Regions from separate parts of the Homo sapiens genome. Here region 1 is linked to region 2. The links come from fine-mapping of genetic effects on gene expression. A gene starts in region 2. The other region holds a variant in brackets. All regions are shown on one strand. Distances are between the middles of the regions. Region 1 overlaps ADCY5 (adenylate cyclase 5). Region 2 holds the start of ADCY5 (adenylate cyclase 5).

Region 1 (2,896 bases), 57 kb before region 2:
GACACCATGGAGTAAAGACAGAGGGCTGGGCTTGGCCTCCCCTGGGGCGTGGCAGATGTGAGTGAAGAACCTTCCTCATAATCCCATGGTGATCCTGGGCCATCAAGGCTGCAGGTGCAGCACAGCCTGAGGCTAGGCCACCCAGTCCCATCCTGGGAATGGACTCAGCTCCTTCTCACCTTTGCCCACTCAGGACAGCAGGCTGAGGTCTGCATCCCCGAGGGTTCATCTCTGAGGTCTGCTCTCACATTGCCAGTCAACCTGCAACTGGCACGCTATAAAGAGAGACACGTGGGATGTGAGATGGACATTTCAAGGCCTCCCTCTTCCCTGGAATAAGGTGCCTAAAGCTGACTTTGGAAAACCAGAAGCCAAACACTACAAGGACACCGTGCTGACCCAGCCTTGGGCAGAGGCCAGCACACTTCCCATCTGCCCCTCCAGGGGCTTGGGGGCCGCCCAGCACACCTGCACATGAGGACCAGCTGCCCAAACAGACTGACCAGGGGTTCCTGGAAGCTCTAAGGATATACAGGGCATGCTGATACCTCTAGGCGGGTGGGAGGGGAGGAGACGGAAGGGAAAGGAAGCAAAAGTGTGTGGGTCTGGGGTAAGGAAAGGGAGCTACATTCTGAGGATTTCAAAGCACGTGCCACTCCTGAGGCTTTCAGGCCACAAAACCTGGCCAAACCCCCCCTTTCCAGCCTGATGACCACAGACTGTCTAAACACTTCCAGATGTCCTTGAGGGCTGTGCAGGGGACGGCAAGTGCAGCTTGGACAAAACAGAGTGAAAGATCACCTCTTGGGAAAGAGAAGCTATAAATTACTATTATGACTTCCCACCCAGAAGGAGGGAGACACCCTGGGGCTGAAGACTGAGGGCGGCCAATGGAGACGTCCTTCCCAGGAGGACACCCAGTCAAGGACACTGCCTGGGCTGTCTCCAGTTGCCTTGTTCCAGTCCAGCCTCCACCATCACCCCTTCCCAAGGTCTAAATGCCACAGTACAGAAATATTACCAAAATATTCTCATCCTCACCCCAAGCAATGGGCTTAGCTTTTCCAGGGCCTGGGGTTCCTGTTAGGTCAGAGTAGTAACACAGGCAGGCCCTGCAA[C/G]TTTAGTCTAACCTCCACTTGCACAACTCCAGGGGGTGCCATTCACAAGTGGGCCACATCTGAATGACTGCCCTGCAGGTACAGGACCTTATGCTATAGTCCCACCGGCTAACAGTTCGCCTGGGGTGGCCGGTGGATCTACAACCAGCTCTCCTCCACCAAGCTCCCAGCTTGTCTGTCCAGCAACTTCATCTCCGTCCCAGGGGTACCCACAGTCCCACCAGAGTGTCCTGGGGCCCTCAAAGCACCCCCATCACACTGGGACTCTGGCAGTAGGGGCAGAGTCAGCAGCTGCTGAAAGCCTGCCTGCTCTGGACGAGCGCCTCCTCCTCACATCTAAAGCATTTGTCTTAATTTACTTTATGTAATTAAGAAAAATCCACTACTGTTGTGGCAGGAGTGGGGGAAGCAAGTTACACAACAGTATAGCCTCCGTTATACTAATTTGTTTTAAATGATTTCTAGAAAGAAATAGCAAAATGTGATAGAATTAAGGGGGATTTTATCCTTTCTCCTTTATACTTTTTTAACTTTCCAGATTGTTCAAGTGGTGTCTATGGCTTTATGATCACAGAAACAGGGCTATGAATGTGAGCAAGTTTTTTTCTTCCCCTAGAGACACTTAAGATGTAAGTTCTGGGAGCTCCTGGAAGGCTACAAACCTGCCTGGGGTTCAGAAAGTCTGAGGAAGGGCTTAGATGGGCTCGGTCTGCAGGCAGCACAGGTTAGGCAGTGATCCACGGGGTTATCATAAACCGCAGACTTAGAGAGGCACAGAGACCATCCCCAGCTCTCATCAAAAGGTCAGCTGACCAAGGCCAGAGGGCACAAAGCTTGCCTAAGGCCAGTCAGCCGATGAGTGGTGACAAAGCTGGAGTCTGAATCCAGGCCCTCGGTCCCCAGGCAGACAGTGTTACTCCCCTTCTCTGTATCTTTCTTTCTCTCTGCATGTCTCTCTTTCTCCAACTTTCTGTCTCTTTCTCAGTCTCTGCCTCTCTGTCTCCCTCTCCCTCTCTCTCTCTCCCTCCACCACCACCTCCCTCTCTTGCACGCTATACCTCCAGGCCTCACTAAAGACTCTAATGGTGCCCCTTATTCATCCTCCCACATAGGACAGTCACTTTTTTTTGTGGCAGGAGAATACAGCATCCACAGGAGGCCACCACTTTCTTAACTTTCCAGATTGTTCAAGTGGTGTCTGTGGCTTTATGATCAGAAGGGGGTCTCTACCACCCCCAGTGACTCTAAATGCACTGAGCTGAGACAATGGCACATGCTAGGAAGACTGGGAATTTCAGTCCCTGTAATCAGACCACAAACAAGGCAACAGGTGAGGCAGGCACAGAGGCCCATGTTCCTGCCACCTGCTGCCCCGACACACACTGTACCAACAGTCTTCCCCCAGTGATACAAAAGAGCCCGGGGTCGAGAGTGAGGCAGGCCTTGGTTCAAGCCCTCTCACTCAGAACTCTGCAGCCTTGGGTTCATTAAACCTTCTTGGAATCCCTGTGTCCTCATCAATAAAATGAGGGTGTTGGCCGGGTGCAGTGGCTCCTGCCTGTAATCCCAGCACTTTGGGAGGCAGAAGTGGGAGGATTACACAAGGACAGGAGTTCAAAACCAGCCTGAGCAACAGAGCAAGACTCTGATTCCATAAAAAAAAATTCTAAAAATTAGGTGGGCAGGGTGGGGTAATGCCTGTAGCCTTAGTTACCAGGGAGGCTGAACCAACAGGATCACTTGAGCCCAGGAGTTTGAGGCCACAGTAAGCTATGACT
Region 2 (2,832 bases):
GGTCCACCAGATGCCCTCAGAGGCGCTGCGTGGCTGCGGCAGCAGCAGGCCCACCACCTGGACGGCCAGCACCACGGCGATGAGCGCATAGCAGGCCAGGCCCATGTGGTCCTGGTGGAAGGCGGCGCGGTTGCAAAGCACAGCCATGATGAGGATCACGCCGACGGCGGCCGCCAGCACGGCCAGGTAGGGCAGCTGGAGCGGGGGCCGCGCCGCGTGGAAGGCCAACATGACCAGGCACACGAGCACCAGCACGGCCATGAGCATGGTGAGGCTGCTCTGGTTCAGGCGGAAGAAGTAGCGCTGGTACAGCCGCTCCAGTTTGTCCGACGGGAACTTCTTGGAGCGGAATATCTGCAGCAACGCCAGGCAGCAGGCGCCCAGGGACAGCACCGCGCCGGGCCCCGCGCCCGAGCCCGAGTCCGCCGAGCTGCCGCCATCCCCGGACCCCTCGCCGCCCTCGACGGCGCCGGCCTCCAGCTCGTCGGCCGCGCGCCCCTTGCCCCGCCGCTCCTCCAGACCCACCTCCACCGAGCGAGGGCGCACCTCCGTCCCGCCCGCCGAGGCAGCCGCCGCCGCCGAGCCGCCGCCGCCGCCCGCAGGGGGCGCCCGGGTGCTGCCCCCGCTGGCCGCGCCCCGCCGCTGCCGGCGGCTGCCGCGACCGCAGTCGTCGCCGCCGCGCTCCTGCCAGGCGGACTTGGAGCGGAAGCTGAAGCCGAAGCCCCCGGCCAGGGGGTCGTCACCGCTCAGCGGAGGATCGTCGTCGTCGTCGCTGCGCCAGCGGCTGGCCAGGCGCTGCTGCTGCTGCGGGGTCACCGCCCCCCCGGGTTTCTTGGTGGAGCCGCGGGCAGAGCCCCCGGGGGCATGGGGGTAGCCATTCGCGCGGGAATCGGCCTCGCCCCACGCAGAGCGGTGTTCGGGGCCTCCCCGGGGCGCCGGCGCCGCAGTCTTCTGCGCCGCGTAGCCCGGGGGGCTCACGCTTTTGGAGCCGGACATCCCCCCCTCGGCCTCGTCGTCTCCTTCCTCCTCCCCCGGAAGCCGGGCCGGGGGTCTCCAAGGGGAGGGCGGACGGCCGAGCAGGGGGACCAGGCTAGGGTCACACGTCGGGGGCGGCCCGGGGCCCTGCGCTGCAGCGGGGCATCTTGGCACCCCCGTCCTGAGCGGAGGAGGAGGGCACAGCCCCGAGGTGAGAAGTAGCTGAGGATCCGCGTCAGAAGTCCCAGGTCCGAAATGGAGTTGCCTCCGAGGTGGGGTCGCAGGGACTGGTCTGGCTGCTGCTGCGCCGCACGCGGAGAGACGTCCGGGATCCTGGCTCGCGTCGAGCTCGACGAGGGCCGGAGTTGCGGACGAGACGGGACGGAGTGGTGTCCTTGCGGGCGGTGCCTCCTCGGGCCGGCAGTGCCCGGGCGCGGCGCTCGCTGATTCCGCCTAAGCGGAGCCCAGCTGCTCTCGGGGCTCGGCGGCGGCGAGGGCGGCTCGGCGGGGGTCCCGGCGAAGAGACACTGCGGGTGCGCTTTCCTCGCAGCGGACTGGGAGCGACTGGGAGGTGCGGGCGCCAGCCAGCATTATTTTCTTACGAGGGGTGGGGAGGTGGGATGGGAGGTGGAGAGGACGGGGGAGGGGGCGACGGGCGGAGCAACAGCTCCGGAGCCCCGGGGGGGAGGGTCCTGGAGCCCGGGGGGGCCGTTGCCCGCATCCCCCACCTCTCGCGGCGAGAGTGGATGCGTGGCCCCGGCGAAAGCCGAGCCGAGCCTTCGGCGCGTCCGCGCAGGGGGCGGGGTCCGGGTCAGGGACCGGCTCCTGCGGTGCGGCCCTTCCCCTCTCGCCTCTCCCTTTCCCGCAAACGGAGCGGGGCCGGCCGGGACCTGCCGGCCCGGAGAGCTGTCGCGCCCGCTTCGCAAGCCCCAAGCTCCTCGTCGCCGGCTGCGGGCCCACCGCGGCCGGCGCGGAACGACTAGGCGGAGGACGGAATCCGGCGCAGCGCTGCCGCGGTTCTGCCCCGACGCAGGCAGGCTTCTCCCGGGGAGTAAGGCATCCAGAGATCCAGCGCCGGGGCTCAGAAGCAGCCGGCCCAGAGGGGCCCGCCTGAGAGCCGCGGCGCCCGAGAGGCGCTCCGGGGGGGCCCGCGGGAGCCCGGCTCAGGGCGCGCCATGCACGCTTCGGGCCCTGCGCCGCTCCGGCCGCTCGCGCCGCTCCTCCCTTCTCGCCCGCTCGCCGCCGCCGGAGAGCCCTCCGCATCCCCTCCTCCCGCTGCCTCCCCGCCCCCCGCGCCGCCCGGGCCTCGGCTCACAGCCGCGCGAGGCCGCCTCCGCCCCCGGCCTGGCCATGGCCCCAGCCTCGGCGCCCCGCGGGCATCCTCAGGCCTGGCCGCGGGCACCCCAGTTCCCCTTCCTCACCTAAAATTCTCGCTGCGCCCCTCCCTCCCTGGGACTAGGAGCCGCATCCAGCCTGCGGTCCCGTCACCAGACCTGGGTGGAGCGCGGTCTTCCCCCGCCCCCGGCCAGGGCTCCAGCGCCCCCAGTCCTAGCTCCCCTCTTTTGTATCCCCCTTTAATCCCCCTCCCCCCATTTAACCCAACTTCAGCCCCGGCGCTGCGCCCCCCTTCCCTGGCCCGGCTCGATTGGCCGCTTCCGGAGCTGTCAGACTACAGTCCGGCGCTCTTATTGGGCGATTCTCTGGCCCGGCGGCTGTGCCAAAGGAGGGCGCACCGGGTGGGGGGCGCCTGGGCAGCGAGTGCCTCAAGGAGAAGGAGAACAGAGTCCCTGGAGGGGTCTCAGGGGCCGGAGAGCCAGACCCGGAAATGGACAGGGGAGATGCAGAAACAGGACTTCT

What was found. PIP is the estimated chance that this variant, and not a neighbour inherited with it, causes the effect. A credible set is the group of variants that fine-mapping cannot tell apart.
Region 1: its variant is the best candidate, but not a certain one, in a credible set for the expression of ADCY5 in tibial artery (GTEx, PIP 0.59).

The regions. Positions count from the first base shown.
Region 1 is chr3:123,390,616-123,393,511 of GRCh38, forward strand. The region is part of intron 1 of ADCY5 (adenylate cyclase 5); the gene reads right to left. Among named protein-coding and RNA genes, the nearest start is that of ADCY5, 57 kb to the right of the region's middle. The variant C/G (reference allele first, on the strand shown) is at 1,119.
Region 2 is chr3:123,447,550-123,450,381 of GRCh38, forward strand. It overlaps ADCY5 (adenylate cyclase 5), which reads right to left and starts at 1,541. Exons shown (of 21, transcript NM_183357.3): 1 at 1-1,541. The coding sequence starts at 996. RefSeq lists an enhancer at 1-602.